2 separate regions of the Homo sapiens genome follow, and region 1 is linked to region 2. Evidence: fine-mapped expression QTL. Tissue or cell type: whole blood. Region 2 holds a variant in brackets; the other region holds the start of a gene. All regions are shown on one strand. Distances are from middle to middle.

What was found. PIP is the estimated chance that this variant, and not a neighbour inherited with it, causes the effect.
Region 1: it holds the start of SGTB, and the variant in region 2 is fine-mapped to the expression of SGTB in whole blood (TOPMed, PIP 0.96).

The regions. Positions count from the first base shown.
Region 1 is chr5:65,717,183-65,725,182 of GRCh38, reverse strand. SGTB (small glutamine rich tetratricopeptide repeat co-chaperone beta) reads left to right here and starts at 3,074. Exons shown (of 11, transcript NM_019072.3): 1 at 3,074-3,266; 2 at 4,354-4,475. The coding sequence starts at 4,376. NLN (neurolysin) reads right to left here and starts at 2,978. Exons shown (of 13, transcript NM_020726.5): 1 at 2,769-2,978. The coding sequence starts at 2,809. RefSeq lists enhancers at 1,714-1,793, 1,566-2,387 and silencers at 2,664-3,273, 3,344-3,393, 3,454-3,503, 5,548-5,744.
Region 2 is chr5:65,667,918-65,676,178 of GRCh38, reverse strand. It overlaps SGTB (small glutamine rich tetratricopeptide repeat co-chaperone beta), which reads left to right. Exons shown (of 11, transcript NM_019072.3): 9 at 3,898-3,935; 10 at 4,181-4,264; 11 at 5,822-8,261. The coding sequence ends at 5,933. Among named protein-coding and RNA genes, the nearest start is that of TRAPPC13, 47 kb to the right of the region's middle. The variant T/C (reference allele first, on the strand shown) is at 3,519.

The DNA.
Region 1 (8,000 bases), 49 kb before region 2:
AGAGGCAGACATAAGAATCCAGTTACCTTCTATTATGTCACACATTAGTTTTGCAAAAATGCGAAACAGTGCCACTTCTGCCGGGCGCAGTGGCTCACGCCTGTAATCCCAGCACTTTGGGAGGCCGAGACAGGCGGATCACGAGGTCAGGAGATCGAGACCATCCTGGCTAACAGGATGAAACCCCGTCTCTACTAAAAATAAAAAAAAAAAATTAGCCGGGCGTGGTTGCGGGCGCCTGTAGTCCCAGCTACTTGGGAGGCTGAGGCAGGGGAATGGCGTGAACCCGGGAGGCGGCGCTTGCAGTGAGCCGAGATAGCGCCACTGCATTCCAGCCTGGGCGACAGAGAGAGACTCTGTCTCAAAAAAAAAAAAAAAGAAAAAAAAAAGAAACAATGCCACTCCTAGGATAACTGTTATCAAAACCAGGAAATAAGTGCTGATGATGATGTGGAGAAATTGGAATCCTTAGGTACTGCCAATGGGAATGTAAAAATGGTACAGCCACTGAAGAAAACAGTATGGTTTCAAAAACTAAACATAGTACTATCCTATGACTCAGCAATTTTCACTTCTAGGTACATACAGTATCCCAAAGAATTAAAAGCAGGGATTCAAACAGACATGTGCACATTAATGATCATAGTAGTAGTATTCACAATAGCCAAAAGGTGGAAGCAACCCAAATGTCCACTGACAAATGGATAAACAAAATGTGGTATATACATACAATGAAATATTATTCAGTTTTAAAAAGGAAATCCCGACACATGCTTCAAAACGAATAAACCTTAAAAACGCTATACTAAATAAACCAGACGCAAAAGGACAAATATTGTCTAATTCCACTTATATAAGGGACCTGAAATACTCAAATTCATAGAGAAAAAATAATGGTTAACCAGGGATTGGGGGAGGAAGTAATGGGCAGTTATTGTGTAATAGGTACAGGGTTTCAGTTTGGGATGATGACAAGTTCTGGAGATGGACAGTGGTGTTGGCTGTACCTCTCAATTGTACACTTAAAAATTATCAAAATGGTAAATTTTGTTATATCTTACCACAATTTTAAAAAAAAGGGAAAAAACCCCACAATGTTAATCTTCTCACTGATTGGGGGGCGGGGGGGTTGGTTTGGAAAATAGTTATTTTTCATTAAAATCACTATTTATGCACCTAGCCTATTTATTAGTTTTGTAAATTAACAACTACTTTAATTTTTTTCCAGCTTTAATGTCTAATATGGTAAATATAGACAGATATACCACACAAACAGAAGCTCTTAGGTCCACGGTAATTTTTGAAAGGTAAAGGGGTCCTGAGAATAAAAAGTTTGAGAATTGTTCTTTTTTTTTTTTTTTTTTTTTTGAGACGGAGTCTTGCTCTGTCGCCCAGGCTAGAGTACAGTGGTGCGATCTCGGCTCACTGCAAGCTTCGCCTCCCGGGTTCATGCCATTCTCCTGCCTCAGCCTCCCGAGTAGCTGGGACTACAGGCGCCCGCCACCACGCCCGGCTAATTTTTTGTATTTTTTAGTAGAGACGGGGTTTCACCGTGTTAGCCAGGATGGTCTCGATCTCCTGACCTCGTGATCCACCCGCCTCGGCCTCCCAAAGTGCTGGGATTACAGGCATGAGCCACAGCGCCCGGCCGAGAATTGCTCTTATATGAAGATTTATTCCCTCCTCTCACCCCTGCATTATGTGAAGTCTTCATTTCTTGGTATAACTTCATTTGACAGCTATATCGATTGCAGCCTGGAGACTAGCAAAAAACGACAGGCTGAAATATGGTCACCAATCACCACATTAACTCTTTGTAATTAACCACTGTCGCCTGCCTGCTCCCTAACTCTACGGACTGAGCAACACAAAGCTCCATCCACACAGACGAGTGGCAATGTGCAAAAGGGAACTGTAGAAAGCTTAAATGCTGACATGTTACAAAGTAGTTTTGTTGATAGCTAGCAAGAAGCACACATTTTCTTTATTCTGTTGAATCTTCATTTGGATTTACAGTTCTGGGCAGATTTGGAAACGGGGATGGTGGCGGCATTGTTTCCGAAAACCAGCGCATCCGTGCAAAGAATTTAATTCCCTCACCATCTTGCTACTGGTCTGTTGCAGTGGGGTGTGGTTAGAGGGCTAGGAAGCAATCCAAAACAGCAGCTCAGGCTGCCCAAAGCCGTGTCCAAGCGATCATTTTCTCCATTTTGGGCCAAGTCAATTTGCACCGGCAAGAGGCAGAATGTTTGTTTTATGGGGAGGAGGAAAATAAAAAAGGAAGTCAGAGAGCATGGACGGAAACAAGCAACACCACCAAAGAGGTTTCATCTCGGGTGGATGTTAAACGATTGGAATGCTAATAATGGGCGCGAGGAGCAAACACAATTGTTCTGAGTCCACAGCTGCGGCACTTTTAATGACAGGTCTGTAGTTCTGCATTGGGATTGAACGTGAAATGATTTTCTTATCCAAACTATTTGCATTCATTTTGGGCCGCGTCTGTGACCAGCCTCGCTGACTGCGGCTGAGGCAGTCCCAAACAAAGAGGAATGGACGTCCTCCCGAGGGAGCGGAGGCGGGAAAGGTGGCCCCAGGTGGCCGCGCCAGGTGTCCCCCAGGGGTCCACCTTGCAAGCCGCGGGGAGGGTGCGTCCCGGGAGCGTCGGAGAGGCGCGGTCGGGAAGGGGTGGGTCCGGGCTCCAGGCACCACACGGCGAAAGACCCCGCCCTGCCCACGGCCAAGGTTAACCCGCGCGCTGGAGGTACCTGCGGAGGCTTCGCACAGCCAAAAGGCACCGGGCGATCATGGGAGCGCTGAGAGGCTGGCGGCGGCGGGCGCGTGGTCCTTCGGCGTGGGGCGGCGAGGCGGGCGGCAGCGCCTGGGCGCCCGGGAGTCTCGAGCCGGCCTAGCCGCAGAGGCCACAGTGGCTGCCTGGCCAGCGCCCTCCCACGTGCGGCAGCTCCACGCCGGCGCCTACCAGCCCCGCCCCGCGCCGTGCCCCGCCCCAGCTCGCGTGTCTGGCCCCGCCCCAGCCCTCGCGTCCGGCCCCGCCCCAGGGGCGGTGCTGGCCAGACCCTGCCGCCTGAGAGAGAGCACAGCCTGGTGGGTTCTGGGGTCTACGGCCTAGGGGCCGGGGAAGTTTGCGCCGCCGCGACCAGTGCTGCGATCCCGAGCCGGGCTCCAGCCCCGAGGACCAGGGGTCGGGCGGGCCTGCCTACGGAACCCCGCGGGCCAGCAGCAGTCGTCTCGCGTCCTCCTGCTTGGTAAGGGGCTTCTGTCTGGCAAGGGTGCGCCTCCCGCCGCTCCGGACCGGGGCCCGCACCGGCACCCGCTGCACACCGGGCAGGGCCGAGGCGAGGCCGGGTACCTGAGGGAGGACGGAAGGGAGGGGGAGCTCGATGCGCTCTGGGGAGAGGAAGGGGGAGAAGCCTATTTCCCTCTTCTCACCCCTTTTCCCCCCATTCTGTTTTTACCTTCTGCCCTGGGGCCTTATTTAGTGCTTATGACCCCGTGGCCTAGAGGCTGACATCGCCTTTAAAATAACTACACAAATAATAAACATTATAGCGGCGGGTACCACACCCTGGCTTTGAATTAGGGAACCTGGGGAGCAGATGGATGATGCGATTTGGTGGAAATCAGCCATGAATGCCGCCTGGCCCTGCGCCACTGTTTGGATGCGATAGTATTCCATGTGAATGAACATGACCGGGAGCTTCCAGCTTGTCCACGAGAGCACAGCCTCTGCAGGGAGCGCCGGTCGGCTTGTAGTATCCATCGACTTGGGCAGCGATTTCCTGACATGTCTGCTGATTAAATAGAAATGCCATTTTTATTAAGAACGACACTCACCACTTGAATAACCTTTCGCGAATGTGTTTCCTCATCAAATAACTCTCAACCTACAAAAGTGGGTAGAGTGTACATTATTAATACTTTTTTTAGATCCCATGAAAAAGAGGAAGATGCTTGGTATACATCAGCTTTTAGTCAGCAGTATGAAATGCCTCTTAACTTAGTACTGAGGCCTTTAGGGGATTTCTGTATGGTGAGATATGCAGTGACAGTCTAAGCTTATGCTGTACATGTTTTGAAGACATTTTTACTTATTCCAAGATTTAACATACTCGTATACCACTGGGTATTAATGAAAATATGTAATAAATTACCTTCACAATACTTTGTGCTCTCCTGACTCTTTACAAAGAGAAAAGATGAAAGGTCATACAGTTTTGTGTTTTGTTTTTACCTTTAATACACTTTATAACCCATATCATCTTTGTAATTTATGACTTTCCTGACTGATTCTTTAAAATAACTTAGTTCAGTGTTTTCATTTTTCTTATCAAGGAAAAGTGTTTAAGCTTCTAAAATGTCATCTATCAAGCACCTGGTTTATGCAGTTATTCGTTTCTTACGGGAACAAAGTCAGATGGACACTTACACCTCGGATGAACAAGAAAGTTTGGAAGGTATGCATCTGCTCTTTGTGTTCATTTATATTATAATTATAAACGAAGACTAAAATAGCTGTAAGCCCAACTTGATGATCTATTGTAACATAATCAGAATTTTTTTTGATCTTTCAAGAGGAGAGGCCTGACTATAAGGTTATCGTATTTCCATTTTCTGAAGCTTGTTTTGTTTGTTTTAACAACAAATTAAGAGGACTATTGTTCATTTATTGAACAAATACTATATGTCAGAAGTATGCTGTTCATATTATAGGCAATTTTTTCTTCACAGCAACTGTTATGTTAGTATTATCCCCATTTAACAAGTGAGAAAATAAAACCAGGGCCAGGCTTGGTGGCTCATGCCTGTAATCCCAGCACTTTGGGAGGCCGAGGCAGGTAGGTCATTTGAGGTCAGGAGTTCAAGACCAGGCTGGGCAACATGGCAAAACCCTGTCTCTACTAAAAATACAAAAAGTAGCCAGGTGTGGTGGCACTTGCCTGTAGTCCCAGCTACTCAGGAGGCTGAGATAGGAGGGTGGCTTAAACCCAGGAGGTGGAGGTTGCAGTGAGCTGAGATCACACCACTGCACTCCAGCCTGGGCCATGAGCGAGACCCTATCTCAAAAAAAAAAAAAAAAAAAGAAAAAGAAAATGAAACCAAATAGCGTAAGCAGATAACACAGCTGATATGTGATAAAGCTGAGATTTAAATCCTGGTTAATACTCTGAAGATCTTGTTGTCTCCATTTCCTAATAGGAAAGCATCCAGTTTAGAAATAATATATAAAAATACCTGAGTCATTTTAATAGCACTATGTAAAAGTCTAATAATTATACCACTAGTGAGATCTGACCAGTGCCTAATTTGGAACTTGAAATGGGAGCATTTCACCTGTGTTTTACGTTAACTTTAATATTGGATTCGGTAATCTGTAAAGTTGAACAGGATGTGGGTGATAGCATCATGTGTTTCCTCGACACCGTCTTTGTTCTTCATGTTTATGTGTTATAAAATTTAAATTCAGTACAACCATAACAAGGTAGAATTCTGCAGATGGGCTTGTGGAGGTTCAGTGAATCTGGTGTCCCTGTGGCCTAAAGTCTTTTATTTATTTATTTATTTTTTGAGACAGGGTCTGTCTGGCTCTGTCACCCAGGCTGGAGTGTAGTGGCACAATCTCGGCTCACTGCAACCTCCACCTCCTGGGCTCAATTGATCCTCCCACCTCGGCCTCCTGAGTAGCTGGGACTACAGGAGTACACTACCACACCCGGCTAAGTTTTGTATTTTTTTTTGTAGAGACAGAGTTTCGCCATGTTGCCCAGGCTGTTCTCAAACTCCTGGGCTCAAGTGATCCACTCGCCTTGGCCTCCCAAAGTACTGAGATTACAGGCATGAGCCACCCCTCCCAGCCCCAAAGTCTTAATTATTGCAGTGAGAGTGCATTTGGAAGAACTTAATAAATGACAGTATAGTTATAAATCCCATCTTGAAACTGCTTCTATAATTTCAACAAGCATTTCCCTGTGAATATGCTTTTAGGAGGTGGAGATGAAAATTGGGCATTTGCTCTAAACCTCCTTGCAGTCTGGTTAGTTGATGTCTTTCCAGGTGGCAGTGAGAGGAGCAGGTGATGCACAGTTGGAGAACATTGCAATCAGTCCATTTAATATTAAGGTCTTTTTGTTCTCCTTGATGATTAGACTATGTGAAAATAAAGTTGATTGGTTATCTAAGGAGAATGTTAGTTATGATTGCTCTGTAGCAAACAGATAAATGCAGTCATTTAAGAAAAGATGTTTCTTTTCTAATCAAAAGCAGCATAAAAGTTTTAAGGGCCAGAAAGAAAATTGAGGGTTTTTTTTTCAAACCAAGATGTTATGTCCTATTTTTAGGATGGTATTCAGCCAAAAATATGTGCCTTCAGCTGTTTGTTATATATGGCAGTCAGAAAGGGTGCCAATTGTTTTTGACTGACCCCTATTTTTGACTCTGTGAGTCTAATTTAATTGAACATGAAATCATGTGGAGGTGTCTGCCCACCTTCTAGACATTTTTAAAAGCCCTAGGAAAGAAGCCTCAGTTCTAATACCAGCTTTACCACTACTGTGAAGCTGGTATATCATCAGCTTTGTCTTGCCATCAGATTATGTCACCCACTCCTCTTAATTATTGTCATCTACTGACATTTGCTTCATTCCTTGACTAATTGTGGTTCCTGCTCACTGTCACTCTCTCTAGCACTACTCCTATTTAGTTCTTGGCAATTGCAATATACTGATTGATGATTATTTTAGTTCCCTGGCTCTCAGTTATTGACCTCATCCAGTGATCTCAAACACTTGATCATATTCTAGATCAGTGGTTCTCAACTTGGGGGTGATTTTGCAATATCTGGATACATTCTGATTGTCACAACTGGGTGAGGCGGGTGGCTGGTATTATTGGCATCTAGTGAGTAGGTAGAGGCCATGGATGCTGCTAATGCACAGGACAGCCCCTGACAAGAAGAAATTACCTGATCCAAAATGTCAGTATGCGGAGATTGAGAAAGCCTTCCCTAGACTTAATCATTACCAGAATTGCATTCCTTCCCTAATCTCTATCCCAAACATTTCACTTCCTGACCACTATTGCCTGTCTTTCCAAGATTACTCCCTCTAGAATCCCTACTCCAGCTATTCTTTGACCCAACCAGTACCTCCAATCTGTTCATGCCTCACCTTTCCCCACACCTCTTCTTACTCATCTTAAATTCCATGGTTGATAATTATAATTATTCCCTTGTATCTCCTTCCCTTTCTTGCAAAGCCCAACTTTGTTTAAATCCAACTCTCCACCTACTTTGTGCCCAACTACTCACACCCACTCATGTAGCCGTAAATAAATGGAGCAAAACACACAACTTTGCTGACTAGTCCCACTTTAAATTCATGACTGTGAACTTCAAGTAGACCTTTAATGCTGTCAGGCAATCACAGTATCTGTTCTAAGTTCATTCATACATTTATTTTCCTAGATGACCATTTTAACACTTTCTCATATCTTCTCAAACCCTCAAACCTCCTTCACTGTCCTCACTTTTAGTTGGTTACCTTGCTTTCTACTCCACCAAGAAAGCTGAAATAATAAGAAAATAGCTGGATATGATGGCACCCACATACTCGGCCTGCCTGCCTGTTTGACTAGCTATTACCATAGATGGACTATTCATGTTCCTTTCTAAATGGAACCCCTCTACTGGTATACTAGATCCCATCCTGTCTCACCTACTCCAGGATATCACTTTAGTTATTTTATTTTTTTAATCTTACATCATAAAATTTTCATACCCTACTGGATCATTTCCATCATCATATAAACTTACCATTATTCTCCCTTCTTCAAAAAAGCAAAAACAAACAGCAAATAATTACTGCTTAATTGTATGTCTCCCTTTGCAGCAAAACCATTTGAAAGAATGGTCTATACTTGCTTTCTCCAACTCCTCTCCTTCTATTCTTCTTAAACCCATTCTGATTAAGCCTTTGCCTCAATCT
Region 2 (8,261 bases):
ACTGCTTTTTTCTGTTTTCCATTTGCTTGGTAAATTTTCCTTCATCCCTGTATTTTGAGCCTATGTGTGTCTTTGTATGTATAGTGGGTCTCTTGAATACAGCTCACTGATGGGTCTTGTTTTTTTATCTGGTTTGCCATTCTGTGTCTTTTAATTGGGGCATTTAGCCCATTTACATTTAAGGTTAGTATTGTTATGTGTAAATTTGATCCTGTCATCATGATGCTAGCTGGTTATTTTGCAAACTTATGTGGTTGCTTCACAGTGTCACTGGTCTGTATACTTCAGTGTGTTTTTGTAGTGGCTGGTAACAATTTTTCCTTTCCATATTTAGTGCTTCCTTCAGGAACTCTTGTAAGGCAGGTCTGGTAGTAATGAATTCCCTCGGCATTTGCTTGTCTGAAAAGGATCTTATTTCTCCTTTGCTTATGAAGCTTAGTTTGACCAGATATGAAATTCTGGGTTGGAAATTCTTTTAAGGATGTTGAATATGGGCCCCCAATCTCTTCTGGCTTATAGGGTTTCTGCTGAGAGATCTGCTGTTAGTCTGATGGGCTTCCCTTTGTAGGTGGCCTGGCCTTTCTCTCTGGCTGAATGGCAGGGTTCTTAACGTGTCCATGTACCTCCTGTGGGAAAGCCATGGATGGACTTTAGGAAGCTCATGGATTTTTCCAAAATTATATATAAAAATCTGTGTACATGTGTATGTGTGCATTTTTCCAGGGAGAGCATCATATTTTTCATGAGATTGGCACAGGAATCTGCCAATATATGAAAGGTTAAAAACTACTCTCTTACATAAAAGTGGTCCTAGGAAGATATCTAACATCTGCAGTTTGAGTATTTGGCCATTGTGGTTCCCTAGCTTGCCCCTCAGCATTGTCTGCCTTGTTTTCTATCTTTAGAGTTTATTTGATATAGATAGATAGATATAGATATAGATATCTCATGTGTTTGTCTTCTATTCTTACAAAACAACAAAATAATGTATGGGCCTTTTTGAGAACATACACGCTCTGGTCCAATATGTGGTAACTTTGATTTAGTGGGTTTAGGATGTTACCAGGGCATATCAAGCTCCTGGGGTGACTGTATACTTTGGATGAGAATTATTCTATCCATGATATGCCCTTGGAAGGCAGGAATCAGTTTTTATTCATCTTTTGTTTCCTTCAAAAAATGTGTCTTGCATCCATTAAATCTTCTGTTGAACTGAAATGCACAGATGACTCATTCCCAGTGAGATAAGTCTTTTTAGCAACTGGTAGTTTTTATTTTTCCCTTATCAAATTTCAGCCTTCTTACCATGCTAGCAAATACATGTTTTGTAGATCTTGTGACTTCATTTTTTTTTTTAAGAATGGTTACCCATTCTAGGACTCAGGTTATGGCATTGTAACAAGATGTGAAAAATGGAATTCTTTTAGTTTCAGATTTGGCTTAGGCTCCAAGCTGCTATGTACCAAAATAAGGTGTGAGACCACCATGTAGGAGTTGCAAAAGATGGGGATAAAAAACATGTTTTGTGACTCATAAAAAAGGCCAGGTTGATGGAAATTAAAACATGATTTTTGGAGAGAGCTATTAGAGTTTTAGGGCTCCCTATATGAAGGAATTAGGGAGGCTTGCTCTCATCTCAAGCCCTCACTGAGAAAGGGCTTTTCTGGTACAGAGACTTTCTACCTGATAGTTCAACTGGATAGCCAGTGGCAGAATTAGCTGTGTGGTTTGGGCAGTTACTGTACTGATGAGAGTGGAGCAGAGGTGTTTCCTGTGGACCAAGGTGAGCACACACAATTGTGAGAGAGTGTGTCTGAATATGTTCAAGAGGCTTTCCTGGAAGTGTGACAGGATCCCAACACAGAGAATCTCTGGAGGACTGCCAAGAACCTAAGACTGAAGGGAAAGTCATAGCATCCATCCAGAGGGTAAATTACCCTTTTCAAAGAATAGGTAAGAAATCTCCAGGGCCTAGGGAAAGGAGAAGTGTCTGAAGAACATGAGAAAGTACCCCATAAGAGAACCACAGTAGTTTTTGAATACCTTGCAAACTCAAAAAGCACCAATGCAAAACTAGTAAGATAATACCAGTCATCAAATAAGAACTTTGCTGCTCCTTTCACCTTTCCCTCCATTTAACCCTCAACCTGGAGGGCCACAACTCTTAATCAGCAAGCTGAGGGAAGAGGACTGGAAGTACTACAGGATAAAGAAGCACTATAGGCCTTGGTGTGCTGGCTCACACCTGTAATCCCAGCACTTTGGGAGGCTAAGATGGGCGGAGCACTTGAGGTCAGGAGTTCCAGACCAGCCTGGCCAACCTGGCGAAACCCCGTCTCTACTAAAAATACAAAAATTAGCTGGGCATGGTGGTGCATGCCTGTAATCCCAGCTACTTGGGTGGCTGAGGCAGGAGAATCACTTGACTCCGGGAGGCAGAGGTTGCAGTGAGCTGAGGTCATGCCATTGCACTCCAGCCTGGGTGACAGAGTGAAACTTCATCTCAAAAAAAAAAAATAGCCCTATAGGACAGCGGTCCCCAACCTTTTTGTAACAGGGACTGGTTTCATGGAAGACAGTTTTTCCATGGACCATACCGGGTGTAGGGGGTAGGGGCAGGATGGGGAGAGGAGCGTTAGATTCTCTTGAGGAGCACTCAACCTAGGTCCTTCACATGCGCAGTTCACAATAGGGTTCTTGCTCCTATGAGAATCTAATGCTGCAGCTGATCTGACAGGAGGTGGAGCTCAGGCAGTAATGCTTGCTCGCCCACCGCTTACCTGCTGCTGTGCAGCCTGGTTCCTAACAGTCTGTGGCCCAGGGGTTGGGGACCGCTACTATAGGAAACAAAGCAGTCAATGGTGCCTCTTTTCTACTACAACCGGTCAGTCTGTAGCAGGCCCATGCTAGGAAGGGAGAAGTTTTACCTGTAAATGAAGCTTTATGTATTTGATTGTTACACTGAGACATTAATTGCTGAACTGGAGGTCATTTTATAGAACTTAAAGTGACAGGAGGATTGCTTACTGAAAAGTGACTGGAAAAGCATAGATCTGTTCTAAATTTCCTCTAGGTCCTAGATTGTGGGAGAAGGGGAAGAACTACTGCTGCAGAACTAGTTTAAAGGGATTGCAAAACACAGCATTTCATGTTTATAGCTCATACATCCTGCTTTTCCTGTGTAATGCCTTTAGCACTTATGGGTTGGCTCAGAGGCACCAATCCTGACTGGGACTTGAGGAAAGTTTTGAATTACTTACGAATCAGTCAGTGATCTTTCTGGTAATATAAGCAAGTGGTGGCTTTTCCCAACACCTCATAGAGAGTCTGTGAATATAATCTATTGTCTACAAAGATTTAGACTAAATTCAAATTTTACATAAATATTGTCGACATTACCAATTTGAGGGAAAAAATGTGATGCTTTCAAAATAGAATGTTTTAAAAGTATGTGTGCACATAAATATAATTCCTTGTGCCACTGTAAGCATGGGAAGGATTGAAATTGCTGGGCCCCA[T/C]GGAGCAAAGTCACATCTCTTAAAAGCTCGTTTGGAATGGACCTTCTCAAGTGTAGGAGATCCCTTAACCATACTTTTAAAGTTCCTATTTTTCCTTTTGGCTTAATTGGTCTGATAGCAGTAGTAAGTAAACTGCTGTCAACATCCTCAGTTTATAGTGTTGTTTGTAATCTCTTTATCCTCACCATGTCTTCTTAATGCCACTTTTTCTAGTACCTTCTCTCTTTTTACATTCCCCTTTACTTTGCATAGCACACTGAAACTCTACAAAATGTTAGTGCATACATGATTTAGCTTTCATTCTTCTAAAAAAAAAATCTTTGCTAAGATCCCTACATATTAACTGCCTTTAATGGGAGGTGCTGTTTTTCAATTCCAGGCGGCAAGTTTAATGCAGAACCCTCAAGTTCAACAGCTGTAAGTATATAGAAAGAGCTTATTACACTTCCCCAACCCTTCCACTTGCCAGGCTCCTAATTTGAGCACATCAGCTCAAAAATGATGAAACTGTTCTGAATGACAGTCAGTTGGAGCTTAAAGCCACACACATTTGGCCTAGCCTCTGGTATAACATGGGTATTTTATTAACTTTTCCTCGTCCAGTTGTCCTATTTGTTAAGAATATATACCAATCCCAGTGATGTATTTCTTGTGTACTCTAGAATGTCAGGAATGATGACAAATGCCATTGGGGGACCTGCTGCTGGAGTTGGGGGCCTAACTGACCTGTCAAGCCTCATCCAAGCGTAAGTATTATTTAAAACAGAAATAGTGAAGATGTATTTTATGTTTTACAGCCTATCTCTATGGTGAGGGGTCAGGGCTTTCTTTTTAAATGTTTATCTTTTACCGTTAGTAACTTTAGCCTCCTTAATGTTACTAAATCTGAAAGAAGTTCATGAATTACAACCACTTTTTAGACTGCAGGGCAGGAATCCATACCTAGATAGTCTGGCCAGCCCTGTCTGTTGAGAAAAAGAACCATGTTTATTATGCTTCCCCCCACCCCCACCCCCGCCCCCGGTTCATTATGCTTTATTTTTTGGGACTTTCAAGTACCAGCAGAATCTTTTTCTTCTTTTCTTTTTTGGCACCATCTCAATAAGGCAGGTGAGGGACAGATATTAGAAAAGTAGATAATTTATATCCCTACCCAATGGCTAGAGAAACTGAGGTACAGGTTAGTGACTTACTAAGGAACCCATAGCACATTCAGTCTTTTCATTTGCAGCCTAATTTTACTTGATTGTGTTGTCAGCATGAAATTAGGGTCCTTGGTTTTTAAGTGGGGGTATCAATACTGTATCTCTGCTTACAGAGGGTCCCAAGGATTGGTGACCTGGTACTTTGAGGGTATGGAGACAAACAGTAAAAATCATATGTCCAAATAAATTGTGATCTCATATATATATAAAGCTATTAATCCCCCATTTTTTCCCAATGAAGATCCAGGAAGTTTTTCAGCAGACTTCAAACTACTCAGGGACACAGATGAAGGTCAAATATCCTCTTAAAATATATATCAATTTAGGTACACATACATAGTTTAAAATCACTTGTTACATACTTTAATGTTCAGGCAATTCAGGAAATTTTTATTCAAACTTTTTCAGTGCCTGTCAACACTTAGAGGAACTACTTGCATCTTCTCATTACTTGAGCACATTGCCTTCACTTATATCAAATTGGCGAAGACAACTTTGCTTTTTGAATCTGTGTCTGATGCTCTCGCTGGACATTTTATATGAAGCCACAGTACCACTTGTTGTTTGTCAGCACAACTGTGTATCCACTTAGAATATTGCATTTTTAGAATGACCTTTAAATGGCATATAATGACATCTAACACTGGCAATAGAGGGTCACATACTACAATTTGTGTTAAACTTCTTAGTGTTTTTAAAATTACTTGTTAGGTGACCTCCAAAAGCATCCCAAACTGGGTGTTATATGAGACTATTAAGACTTGGGTATAAAAGCATTGTATTTGAGCACATACAATAAAAACATATACGTCTTACCCTTTGCTTCTTTGTCATTAGCACTAGAGAAGTAGATTTCACCCAGTTGAGGTACTTATTTTTTTTAGCATGGGTGTTTTGTTTCTTATAAAGAACACTGCATTGTAATAATGCTATATGGAGGCATTGGTAAACTTGTAGATTCTAAAGTCATGGCTCTGAAACTTGTTTTTATAGAAAAAAGCCCCCTTTAGGTAGCTCCTACATTTTCTGCATTTCTTTTTGCGTGGGTAAATGTGACTGGCAATTCCCTATTCAAACCACATTGCCTCTTTACTACAGGGGACAGCAGTTTGCTCAGCAGATACAGCAACAAAATCCTGAACTTATAGAGCAACTGAGAAATCACATCCGGAGCAGATCATTCAGCAGCAGCGCTGAAGAGCATTCCTGATTTAACCAGGGGCTCAAGCCCAAGATACAAATGGTTTATGGCTATGAATGAAGTATTTGTTGTAGATAGTACCCCCTCCCTCCTTCAAAAAACCAAACACCATATCTGATGTGTGAAAATAATGGAGGAAAACCTCTTGTGTATATTCTTAAAGAATAAATCTGTTTAGACAATAGGTTTATCACAAACAAACTCAAAACATAACATGACTCCTTTTGAAATGATCACTAGCCATGTTACGTGCCAATATAGCACTGGGATAAGGTTCCATTTTCAAACTTCTATCATATTTGTATATTAGACTTAATAGCAAAGCATATTTATTGAACTCTAGTAGGGCTATTTGTTGGTAAGCTCTTTAGCTCCAATTTCCCTTAAGCAAAGTTTTTTGAGAAGGGAAATGACCCAAAGGAAAGGTTTCCTATGCTGGTTGAGAAGAAGTGTACTTGCCACTGAGCAGTATGTCAGGAAAGAAGGAATATTATCTAGGTTTAGCTTTGATAAGTGCTATTAGTAATGAATATATAACATGGGAACCAATGTTATCTTTAATGTTGCTTGTTCTGGTGAACAGAGAATCTTAAGAGCTGTTAGAAAGTAGCACTTGATGCAAGGGATGTTTTGAAAAGAAAAAATTGGTAATGCGAATGTATAGAAAGTAAAGGTAGGATGCTCAGGTTTTCTGCATAGTTCTTAACTAATCTTGTCTGCAGTTTGGTATTGATAATATTAGCATGGCCACTTATGCTAAATACACAATAAGATACATTTAGAAATCCTTAATGTACTGGTTAGGTCAGTGGTACAACTGTTTGACTTAATTATCACAATTTCCCCAATGGTAACCTTACCTTGGAAACTATCAAATATAAATATACTTTAACTAAGCCAGTGACCTGGTCCTAAGTTAAGGATTTTCTAAATGGTATTTAATTGTGTGCCCATAAACACTGATTTTTTTTAAAAAGAAAACTTAGTAATTATTTGATGGATAACAAAAAGCATCTATCACTAACATTGCTTGTTCATGTAATCTTCTGTGATAATTTGGCTTGGCATGCCAGTCTTATAATTAACATAATTTAAATTTGATGCAATTTAAATATAACAGGAGACTTAAAATATTTTATTATAAATTAGATGCCATATTAGTTAGTGGAGAAAAGGGGCATTAGGTATTAATTGCATGGGTCTAACTACATTGATGATGAGAGTTTAATTCCAACTAGAGTATATTTTTTGTTTATTAATAATGAAATTGGTGCTGACATGTAATGACTTCACAAGTTTTACGAGGGAAAACTGAAAAAGGAAGTAATATAAATTTTGTGGGGTTTTTTTGAGATGGAGTCTTACTCTTTTGCCAGGCTAGAGTGGTGTTGCAATGTCAGCTCACTGCAACCTCCACCTCCTGGATTCAAGTGATTCTCGAGCCTTAAGCTCCCAAGTAGCTGGGATTACGGGCGCCCACCACCACGCCCAGCTAATTTTTTTTTTTTTTTTCTTGAGATGGAGTCTCTCTCTGTCGCCAGGCTGGAGTGCAGTGGCGCAATCGCGGCTCACTGCAACCTCTGCCTCCCGGGTTCAAGTGATTCTCCTGCCTCAGCCTCCTGAGTAGCTGGGATTACAGGCACGTGTCACCATGCCCAGCTAATTTTTGTATTTTTAGTAGAGACGGGGTTTCACCATGTTTGCCAGGATTGTCTCAATCTCTTGACCTCGTGATCCGCCTGCCTTGGCCTCCCAAATGCTGGGATTACAGGCGTGAGCCACCGTGCCTGGCCGCTAATTTTTGTTTTTAATGGAGAGAGTTCCACCGTATCGGCCAGGCTGGTCTCGAACTCCTGACCTCAAGTGATCTGCCCATCTTGGCCCCTCAAAGTGCTGGGATTAGAGGTGTGAGCCACTGTGCCTGGCCAGGAAGTAATATACAATTAAATGAGTAATAATGCAGATGATTAGGCCTTATAGAACCCTTATCAAAAGACTAATTGGCCGGGCGCTGTGGCTCATGCCTGTAATCCCAGCACTTTGGGAGGCCAAGGCAGGGGGGATCACCTGAGGTCAGGAGTTTGAGACCAGCCTGGCCAACATGGTGAAACCCACCTCTACTGAAAATACAAAAATTAGCCTGGCTTGGTGGCGGGCACCCGTAGTCCCAGCTACTTGGGAGGCTGAAGCATGAGAATTGCTCGAACCTGAGAGGCAGAGGTTGCAGTGAGCCAAGATTGCGCCACTGCACTCCAGCCTGGGTGACAGAGCAAGACTCCATTTCAAAAAAAAAAAAAAAAAGAAAAAGAGACTAAGAGACTAATTATTTTGTATCTT